Linked DNA regions of Homo sapiens. The protein of the gene in region 2 purifies or fractionates together with the protein of the main gene of each other region. This does not show direct contact. Each region holds a gene or a part of one and is shown on either strand. Other genes may lie near its edges.

Region 1 (3,500 bases), on a different chromosome or scaffold from region 2:
TTCCTTTTGTGTATAAGCCAGAAATTATCCTAATCAAGGCTAATTATAAACATAATAGCTACTATTAACTAAACGTCTACTATGAGCCTGATGTCGTACGAGGCTTCAGGTTGTCACAATGATCTATGACAGGTATTACTAGCCCCATTTTACAGATGTTTCCCCGTGAAGCCCAGAGAAGTTAAGTACTCTGCCCAGGCTCACACAGGCAATAAGTCGAAAATCAGGATTCAAATCCTATTCTATTTGACTCTGATTTTTGTCCTCTGCTCTTCTCCAACAAGAAAAGTAACTCGTATCTGAGGCAGAAGTAGTCAAAGTACTTTTACTCTTCTCAAGCCTATGAAAGTACCCTGAGCTCCTTTTCATCACCACCTTTTCTAATTATCATGTTTTAATACTATCGTTCTTTTACATTTTACTGCAGACATTTAACATTTTATATTATTAATTAAATATTTTACTAACTAATAAGAATTCTTGACAGCACTTACAAACATTTCTATGGGTAAAGGAGTCTGAGTTATAAGCCACTAACCTACAAGCAAATTTCTAAAATACAACCCACATGTAAGCCAAGAACATCCTTTACAGTTATATTTGAGAGTAGGAAATGTATGTTGTTCTCTCTTTATGACTTAAATCTCTTTATGATTTAAAAAGGATGCTGCTTAGTGGTTCTCAAGGTCTGGTCTCTAAAAGCAACTTACTAGTTCAGGGGTAGGCAAACTACAACACGAAAGTCAAATGTAGCCATTGTTTTTGAAAATAAAGTTTTATTGGAACACAGTCACACCCATTTGCTTATGCATTGTCTATGGCTGCTTTCTCATTACGACGCAGAGCTGAGTAGTTGCAACAGAGATCACCTGCCCTGCAACACCTAAAATATTAACCGTCTGGCCCTCTGCAGAAAGAATTTGCCAAATACTATGCTAATATATATAAGCCAAATACTTTATTTTTATTTTATCAACTACCATATCTATTTAGCTATGGAAATTAATTTATTCTGATTCCAAAGAGTACTGAAAAGATGACAAAAATACATACTACAGAATAAAAACAAGTAAAAGGGATCAAAGTCAGTGGGAAATAAGGGTAAAGTGAAGTCTGGGTAATCTTAGCACACGTAGAAGAAGATGTCACCTAACTGTTAAATTTGGGCACCATCGTTGTTTCAACCTTACTAGCAGCTAAAGTAAAGAGGAAGACAGACCAATTTCACCTTTTCACTATGTGAAAAAAAATAAAATTCTAGCATTCGCTAATGAGAAAAACTACTTCTAGGTTCTCATGAATGGGACATTATGGTACATAGTAAAAAACGTCCTCCACAATATGGTTAGTTATAGTCAATACAAAAGCAAGTTTCACACAGCTCTGCTTTTTGAAGTGTTTGTTAAATAAAAAGTTTTTGTTAAATAGAATAGAACACCTATAAATCCAACCAAGAGCAAAGGAAATGTGGGCTAACATGTCCTTTCTTTGTCCTGTTGGATCTTGGCATAAAATTTAGATATAGGCAATAAATTGACAATGTACAAAGTAATTCCTTATGTCATGCTTACATGATGAAACCAGGGACCTCTTCCCAAAAACAAAGAGCAGATTTGATTAAAGGCACCCTTGGCCTCCTTAACACTAGTGGATGCACAAACTGATTTATGAAGGCTTATTATACTCAAGACTTTTCATTCAGAAACAATGTACTAACATCAGCAAAGTTAACTAGTCAATAGGACATGAAAATAAACATTGTAGGTATATACACAATTACCATTAAAATGATATTCTACCCAAACTAATATTGAAAGATATTACTGTGCTAAAACCATCTTACTGTGAAATGAAACTGGTAGACCAAAACAGGTCTGATCATCTACTCATACAAGTTTGGGGAACCTCAAAGTTCAAGCTTTACCTGGTGGCTCTGTGAAGAAATCAGGGCACAGTGTGAATCATTATAAGCCCATTACACAGTAAATGAGTCAATTAAGTTGGGATTTTTTTCTTTATTACTATTCTCTTCCTATCCATGGAATATATTCAGGGGCCAATACATATCTTTGAATGTTGCTTTTTAACACATTGTATCGGGGGAAAAAAGTCTAAATATTACCTTCTGTAGAAGCTGCATCAATCATTACTCTTTGCATGAGTACTGGTTCCAATCCAAAGTCGAAAACTATGGTTTGGCGAAAAGTTCCAAATATTTCTGTGTTAAATGCTATCCCGACTTTATACACGTAATGATCTAATCCATTTTGGGCCATCTTTCCTCCTATCCATTCTTGACAGTTTTCTGGGACTTCTTGTGATACCTGGGTAGTACTATCTCCGGCAGATATTGCAATGATACTAAAATGAGGACGATGAGCATCATAAAGCAATGCTACACGATACAGCATTCTTGCAGGCTACAAGGAAGTTAAAATAATTCATTGAGTACAAGGGGGTGAAAAATCCAATTGTAATTGGGCTCTTCAATGAAAATATTTCCATAAGGGACTTTTACTTCCCCAAGCTTCTAAGATACTATAGCCATTTAAGAAAAAAATCAGAATGGTTTTTTAAAATCAGTTGTTAAAATTATTTATTTATGCTATATCGCTAGCCTCCCTTCTCTTCCTGTGACATGTTCATTTTTCACTGTGGCAAAAGCTATCACCCTATATAACCATCAACCTTCAAACTTTCCATACTCTTCACCTACAGAAGTTTCATGTAGCCTCAAGTAGGAAGCCTTCGTAAGAGGGCAGTTACCTCTGAAAGCACTGGATTGGGTTCAAGGCTGAAGCTAACTGTTCTTAGATTTTTCATCTCCAGATACAGAAAGTACAGCAGAAGAAATGCCACAAAAAAGACAAAAACTTTTCCACTGAGCATACTCACAGAAACTTTTTACTTTGCTTCGATCTTAAACTTTGACTACTATAATTTAAGATGGGAAGCACTGCAGAAAATGCCCCATATTAAAAACCCATTATCACAGAATTTGTGACTTCATCATATCAAATATAAAAACAAGTTGTTATGGTTTAAAAATCTTAGAACTACTAGAATAAACAATTTTTAAGTAGTTAATTACAAGCCATGAACCCCATCCTATGTCCCAAGTTTAGAAGACAATATGTCAAAGATCTCTTTACCAAATAAATAAATATGAAAGCACCCTAAATATCTACAAAGATCTCATCTAAAAGTATTTTTAAAATTGTACTTTTAATGATCAAAGTACAGAAATATACTTTAGTACAATATAGAACCTATATATAATGTACTTAGATTAAAATATTTTCAATATTCTTTAACACAGAGATTCAAAGGTCAAAAAAACGTTCAGAAAATTAAACACAACTTTTATGCTTTAACTAGCACAAAATTCATACCTTACAAGTGAGAGCAAAGGTCCATGTCTGGTGGGATTTTTTGGTGCTGACAGTAACTGACAGGTCAGGATTGTGCTCTACCTTTACTCCTTCTATACATTCACTAAG
Region 2 (4,254 bases):
TCTTCAAAGACAAATTCCCGAGAACACTGAGGAGGAAGGAAATATCTGTGTTAGTAGAGGTGATTTAACCAGGTAGCTAAGGGCTCCTGGAATATTAGATATTTATAGGGACAAAGAAACCAGCTAATCCCAGAACAATGATTCCCTGGGTCCAGAACCACCTGTCCCCTCTTATCCCCTCCTACCTACTAAACTGGGCAGAGGCAGAGAGGTGATGGCAGTAATTAACCCTTCCCAGTAGTGGGGGGAGGTGCGCTGGTCCTCAGGCTCCATGGCTTCCCCCATAGTGAGTGCACACATCCTTCAGCTCAGGGCAGGCTTAGATCCAGCCTTGGGCCAACATCTCCCTGCCACTTATTAGCCCACCCATCTGAAAGCAGGGGATTTGAGATTTAAAAAAATGGGATTATAAGGTCAGTGATTTCCAGACCTTGGCACTTCACAAACCAGTAAAATCTCAAACAAAATGTGTGTGTGTGTGGGGGGGGGGGGTGGGGGGGGGGATAATATCAAAAAAAGGGCAAAATTTTGTTATGCAAGGTTGTTCAGAAAGAGTTAAGATGAAATTAAGATGGCAGATTCTGGTGCCAGGCAGCCTGGGTTGGAATCCTGGTGCCAATGCTAGATGCATGGTCTTAGGCAAGTCAGTGAATTTCTCTGTATCTCAGTTTCCTCATCTGTAAAATAAGGATGCAACGGTACCTACCTCTTTGGGGTTGTTATAATAATTAAAGAACTATACATAAACTGACACAAGAGATCACATATTGCAAGATTCAATTGACATAACATATACAGGAAAGGCAAATTTACAGAAAGGAGATTAAGGAGAGGGAACAGCATTCAACTTCAAATGAGGGATCTTACTGGGGGATGAAAATGTTCTAAAACAAATTTATGGTGATGGTTGCACCTCTTTGTAAAATTACTAAAAGACATTGAATTGTACATTTGAAATGGGTGAATTTTATAATACATAAAATAAACCTTGATAAAATTGTTTTAAAAGAATACATATAGCACTTAAACTATACCTGGCACCTAGTAAGTATTCAAGTGTAGTAAACACTTACCATCATTTCATGGAAGCCAAAAAAAAAAAAAGCCATGTTATTAGTTTGGTGCAAAAGTAATTGCGATTTTTGCCATTACTTTCAATAACATCACCAAAGTAAGGACCAGAATAAAGCACAAAAATCCCCTACTTGCTGTGAGTCGGGGAGGGTTCACATGTTATCACGTTTGGGGATGGGGAGGGGTATCAGAGTCTTGGAACTACTCTGACTCAGCCCTACCTTCCAGGGCATTTTTCAAACCAAGCCATTTGCATCCCTACCGAAGGTGGTCTGCTTATTTAAGGGGCAGCCCACGGAAGTGTCTCCTCTCTCTGCCTGCCCCGCTGAATGGTGGAATAATTGTCCAGTCAAAAAGGACCTGGATATGCCCAGCGGGCCTCAGGCTGCAGCCCCCTAACTGGGAAAGTTAGGAGAGGCGGGTCTCAGCCCCACCCAAGGGCATCTGTGCCAACAGACTTACTCAAGGTGAAAGGAGCCACCTCTGCTCAGGAAGGTGTGAAGCAGGGCCCTGCAGCCACCGGTCTCGGGAGAGAGGTGGTCTCCTGCTAGGTAGGAGGGGAGGAGTTGGGATCCAATCTGGTTTGTTGTTCTTTTCATCTTATTTTTTCACCCCTTTGGTGAGGGGCTACATTTGCCAACATCCCTTTTAGGATAACCCTTTTAGATGGGTCCAAAGAAAGACTTTTTTTTTTTTTTTTTTTTTTTTTTACAATTAGCAAAGTCCCTCAAACTTCCCCCTTTCCTAATAGCTGAGAAAAGAGGGATAGACCAATTGGAAAGAAAAATGGAGAAGCAAGGAAATGAATGCAACTCTCGCCCAGGCAACCCATCCCAGGCCCAGTAAAAGAGTGGCTTCGGGAGCTGTGGCGAAGGGATCAGCAGACCCAACAGTGCCCGGAGAAGGGGCCTTGGAGGTAGGCGATGGCTGACGGTTGGCGGCGGCTGAAGGCAATAAGTGCTCCTCGCAGCCTGGCAATGGGCACCTGCAGCCGGCGCTCCGCTCCCTGCTGTGAGAGCTCTGCTCCCTCCAGTCGGGACGCCCCGTTGGGCCGGCCTAATCTCGAAGCCTGGCTCCCACCACCCTGCGCCCCGGGATCAGCAGCCAAGCGCTACCCTCATACATAAGTTCCCGCGAGCCACGTCCGCAATTCAGGTGTGCACCAGGTCACTGAAGGGTGTGTGCGCCGCCAGGAGCCTCCATTGGCTGTGGGCTTTGACGAGCTGTTTAATCATTACCTCATCAAGTCCCACGGATCCTAACTTAATGAGCAAATCAGAAGCTCAGCCCGAAACGCTGTGAAGCTCTCAGAATTTAGCCCTGGCAACTGCAAGACCACCAGGGGGATCTCGGGGCCGGGCACTCCCCAAAGCAGGCTGCGCGCACAACGGGGAGCGGGATGGCAGCGCACAGAGGCAAAGTTTCCTCAGAGCATAGAGGCAAACTCCGCCAGGCTCGCTCTCTCTGACCGGGGGTCCCCGGTAAGCACACTCACCTCCGATCCAGCCCGCCGCAAAGTCTTCCAGCTGGAAGCTTCCCATGGCCGGCGCTCGGTCTCGCCCTCCCGGAGCCGGGGCAGTGCCCACTTAGAGTCAGTGGGGCATGGCCCGCGGGCGCGAGCGCGCCGCAAGACCGAAGTCGGAGTCTCGAGCACGCCGCAGGTCCTACTCCAAACCCAGTCCCCCAGTCACCGGCTGCGCGGGCTGCCGCGCTCACCTCTCCAAGTGCCGGAGGGCGGCTGACATCACGCCCCCAGTGGACCTTAAAGGCACAGCACTCTGGGTGGATAAGGGTGCGCTCCGCGCGGCTCATCCCAGACACAAAGAGGCAAGGGTCATCAAGTGAAATTCTCTTAGTCCTCCCTTCTCCGGGTTATCCTCTTCCTTGCCAACTTCAGAGCCTCAGCGCCTTTGAACTGAAAGTGCCAGCCGCCCATCCAGAGACGGCAATGCGCGTATCTCCCTGTACTGTGCTGTGCTGACAATGCTGATTCCAATCAGCTGTGGACTCTCTCCCATCCCAACTCTGGGCAGTGATGCCTTTTTGTTCATCTCAGCCATGTCCCACTCAGTACCCCGTGCCTAGAGCAGGCACCTGGTGGTTCAGGGTCATGTCTAACTTTCAGCTACAGCTCTCTAGGGGCCCAGCTCCCTGCCTGGCCCTGGCTCACCCTACACTGTCCGCCCTGGGCCAACAGAAGGCAGAGGTGGTGCTCTGTACCTCAAACTCCCTCTCTGTAGGCAGACCCTACATTCAGCCAGGCCCCAGGCCAGGGGTCCGTGCTCACTGGAGAAGTGGCCTGCTGTGCGGAGAGGCTTTTGATTACAATGAGAGTGTCTTTCCTCCCTTCCTAAGAAGACTCGAAGCCCCCCAGCGTTCTGCTAGTTTCCAGCAGGGACTCAGCTGTGGGTCTCAGCCAAGACACCCCAAGGTTGACAAGAATGGTGAAGGGTATGGTCAGGAGGAAGGGGCCTCTGCTGGGCCTGCTCTTGTCCCACTGGGCATATTCATGTCACGTCATCCAGGTTAATATGAAGCGACAGCCAGCCAGACCTCCTTCTTCCAAAGCAAGACAGAGCCTGACCACCGAAGCTTGATCCTACAAAGGCCTGTCCACTGAGGAGTGGGGACTTGGAGGTGAAGGGACCTTCCTGCAGCATCACTCCCTCCCCTGCCCCGGCACACAGAGAGTGGACCTGTATCGGGAGAGGACAGCCCGGGATGGAGTCGCCGGCCTGGCTAGGGAAGTATTGCAAAGTTCCAGGGAGGAGTGGAAGCATCACACCCCATCCCGGCACCTCAACTTCCTGCTGCTTATGGTGACCCACTCAGTCTTGAGGCTTCAGAGTTGCCATCAGCATCAACCCCAAGCTGTGCCCTGTCATGCCCGGGATATATGCCTAGGGCTGCTATGAGAAATGCAGGTCTCTGAAGAGTGGCCTTTTACTGAGTTCACCATTGGAATGCATCCACAAGTGGAAAGCCTGACAATTCTCAAAACCCACTCCTCTGGAAGACCACCTAAGGGGTGCCAGGCAGTTTGTCATCCCCTCAGTCCTGTGTCAGCACCAATTGAGGAGGTCTTACGTTGGCAGGCAGTGTCCCTGGCAGCCCAGGATGGCCTCCCAGGCCCAGAAAGCTGCTGCTTGAACTACTAACGAGCTGGAGCAGAGCAGGAGT
Region 3 (3,500 bases), on a different chromosome or scaffold from region 2:
ATGTGCACACATACGTGTGCACAGAGACACAAGCACAAATGTGTGCACATGTGCATCACACACATGCGCACAAATGTCTATTTGCTGGGGATGTGGCAATCATTTGAAATGTGGAACTCCTAACAGTGCTGTGTGGTTTGCACAGAGATCCTGCATTCGGGCGGGGAGTGACAGCAGTGGCAATCACTCCTGGGGACTTTGGGACTCTTCATCTGCCTCCCCTTACTGTGCAAGACTGGCTGTGATTTTAATACTCAGAGCATCTCCGTAAGAAGAAATATCCACCGACGTGGTAGAAGCACAGCAAGTATAAAAATAATTCCACCACAAACTGATACACAGAGAGCATCCGGAGCCACAGACTGCCTGACCCTCAGCACTGCTCTCCTCCATACCTGACGAGGGAAACCTGAGTCGGTCCTCAGTCCCCGTTCCAAACTCCACCTCGTAAGCGAATCCCTCTTCAATTCCTCTAATAACAATTAATGGCTGCTCCTTCCGGGGCCACAGCGTACAGTTCGTAATGATTTCGGGGTACGCCACGGCTGGCCCAGCCACAGTTAGTTGTGTACACCCTGGGTCTCCCCGTGGAGATCATGACTCTCGGAGGCCGGGCCCTCTAACTTGTCACCTTGGTGTCCCTGGAGCCTGGCAGGGTTTCTGTAGCAGGTATTTAATAAGTATTTGTTGTATTAAATTTATTTAATTGGTAGAACTGACGAGACAGAAGTCACTGTACAAACGATTTGTCTCTTGCAGACACACACGCACATGTGTATGTGTTAATGCATTAAGTAAAACAATCACTATCGTTATTGTAAACACTCATAACAACAGTATGCCCCCGCAATCTCCTTTAGAAAATACGGCTTCTTAATTTTTACCAAGGCCTCAGGGCCTTCAGAGAGCAGCTGTGACTGCCGTGGAGAGGTCCCTGGGAATGACCAGTGGGTGCACACAGCCAGGCCTCCAAGCTCATGAAGCAGCGACTGGCCAGGGAGCCACGTGAATGACACACCACATGCCGGACACGGGCGGGCTTGGGCACGCAGCCCCACAGGCACACCACGCATTCATGCTTTGTCCACGGGAGGAAGGGATTGTAAGCCTCAACCTGAAGTGGTAAATAATTGCCATGTGAGTGTGAATAAGTGCATGCTGACCAAGCTGAAAAGCCACACAGCGCTCGAGGGCAGTGCAGTGCCTGACCCTTTACCCTCTGGCAGGTCCCCACGGGCAACACTCCTCTTAGATGAAGAGGAGAAAGTGGGGATGCAGGCGCGCTGGCTACATTTCTGTCAATGCGGCTAATCTAGAAAACACAGGGACTAAAATTAAAAATCAAATTCTCGCAGCTTTTTAAAAGAAAGGAGCGTTTCCGAGGTGTGGACGGTGGCTCCTGCAAAGGAATCTGCACAAGCTCCTGCACCTGGCCAACCTGCAGGCTCGTTCTGGGCGCATGAAATATGCAAAATCCTACCAGGCCATGTTGCCATGGGCTGTGTTGTCAAGGTGACAGAGCAGCTCCAGGGTCTGTGCAGTGCTGGATGAATCATCAGGGGACTCGTGGCTGCCTGATTCCAATTCCTTCGGCATCCTCCACACGGCTGCACATGTCAGGACTTTGCTGTCTGAAGCTGAGCAACAGAGCATAATGGATAATGTCAACAGAGCACGGTGTGCCCCGCATTCTGCAGACAGCACACGCACATTTACACAAATCCATAAGCAGCGCGCATCTGCTCTTTAAAATATGTACGATTGCAGGCAGCAAAGACGGAGCAGGGAGAAGCACAGCCTGAGTCGGCAGGCAGAACCCGGCACGGTTCGTAATCAGCATCCTGTTCCCCACTTTCTCTTTGTTTTAAAAACCATCATGCTGTTTCAAAAGAAAATTTAATTTCCTCAAAATCGATTTCCTTCCGTTCTTCTTCAATAGTTCTTCAAAAAAGGGAGCAAAATGGGGGACTAAAGATATAATCACCACGCACGCAGCTGGTGTCTAAGGTTGGCATTAAACGGGTTTTCTCTCCATAGCTGTATGAGATCACCTTAAATGACTATTAGGCACACTGAGCGATATTCCATTCGGAAATCCTGTCACGCATGTTATTCTGCCTCAGTTTACCTAAAGTGATGAGTATCTGGGACCGGAAGGTAATGCCATTCAGAGGCATCGCATGCTGAGGCCTGGAGCCCTGGTGGGCAGCAGGTGGCAGCCCAGCCTGGTCATGTCACCATCAATACAGCCTCTTCTCCTAGAAATGAGAGTGCCATCCTTACACGATCCTGCTGGTGGCTGCTCGGTCTCCCTGAGTCTTGATACTCTATTTTCAAGATGCTCCAGGAATCTAGAGTACCTAGAAAAGCCACTTTGTGGATAGAGACTCAACCTGCATTAGAAAGACTGGGGTCACTTGTTTCCAAGGAAGGTCTCTGATGCTCTAGAAAATTTCTCAATATGATAAATTTTTTAAAAATTAGATTTAACATTGAATTCTTGAACATAAATCCTTTCAGAATTTGCTTTCCATTTAGTTTTCAATTGAATATGTGCTAAACACCTCTCCCTTTTAAAGATGGCCTTTAATGAATAATCATAAACTAGCAAACAGGATTCAACATTAAATCATCAATTGATAACAAGTGAAGAACATAAAAATATTATATATTGCGTTAGAACATAAAAAAACATTTCATGGGTAGTACAAGAAGGAAAACAGCATGGCATTACAAAATAACAACGACCTTAGGTTACAATCGAAAATGTATCACTTACTGGTGATGATGCTCTTGCGATCTCAATATCAACTAATCGACCAAGCAATATAGCAACGAACTCAATGACAAAATATCTAACTTTGTGAATATTATTAATACCATTGTTAACCATGATTGAATGATAAGAAGTTAAAAGATTAAGACTTCAACCAGGATTTTCTGATTCCAAATTCAGTGACCATTTTATATACCATATTGGGTCTAAAAGAACATGCAATTATGGCTTAAAGAAAAAAAACTCCATCATATATTCATATAATGTTCACACTTCCAACTTTACAAAAATGGAGTGTACAGACAGTTCTGTCTACAAGGGAATTTTATTTATTTATTTATTTATTTATTTGCTGAAATTTTCAGTTACACGATCTTTCTGCAGAGCCCACGAGATTGGCAATGGCACTCCTGGAAACACAAAAATAACCAAAGGGAAAGTTGGCAATTTGGAGTAGGAAAGAAAAAAATGAATGCCTAACCCACTAGCACACACTAACCCAACAGAGGTGTAGATTATCTTAATCTTTCTAAATGGTAGAAAAATACATGTCTAATCTTACAAGTTATAGAACTAATAATGGGAGCACTAAATTGTGGCTGCACTTCAAAATGAATGAAATACACAAGATGACAAAGGCAGGGAATAGTAAAAACAGCTATTCTGTGGAAGAAATGACTAATGGCAGACACTCCCCCCCACATCCCCAACAAGTTCCTTCTTT

The links. The genes of interacting proteins can lie anywhere in the genome.
Region 1: the proteins of SLC25A48 (region 2) and HELZ purify together in Homo sapiens (affinity purification with mass spectrometry; one large-scale study listed by BioGRID and IntAct). This does not show direct contact.
Region 3: the proteins of SLC25A48 (region 2) and EIPR1 purify together in Homo sapiens (affinity purification with mass spectrometry; one large-scale study listed by BioGRID and IntAct). This does not show direct contact.

The regions. Positions count from the first base shown.
Region 1 is NC_000017.11:67,186,197-67,189,696, forward strand, and holds part of HELZ (probable helicase with zinc finger domain), read right to left. Parts: coding exon 3,393-3,500; intron 2,421-3,392; coding exon 2,123-2,420; intron 1-2,122. UniProt on the Homo sapiens protein: May act as a helicase that plays a role in RNA metabolism in multiple tissues and organs within the developing embryo.
Region 2 is NC_000005.10:135,833,209-135,837,462, reverse strand, and holds the start of SLC25A48 (solute carrier family 25 member 48), read right to left. Parts: upstream 2,801-4,254; 5' UTR 2,616-2,800; coding exon 2,570-2,615; intron 2,422-2,569; exon of another isoform or gene 2,198-2,421; intron 1-2,197.
Region 3 is NC_000002.12:3,255,819-3,259,318, forward strand, and holds part of EIPR1 (EARP and GARP complex-interacting protein 1), read right to left. Parts: intron 1,638-3,500; coding exon 1,481-1,637; intron 1-1,480. UniProt on the Homo sapiens protein: Acts as a component of endosomal retrieval machinery that is involved in protein transport from early endosomes to either recycling endosomes or the trans-Golgi network.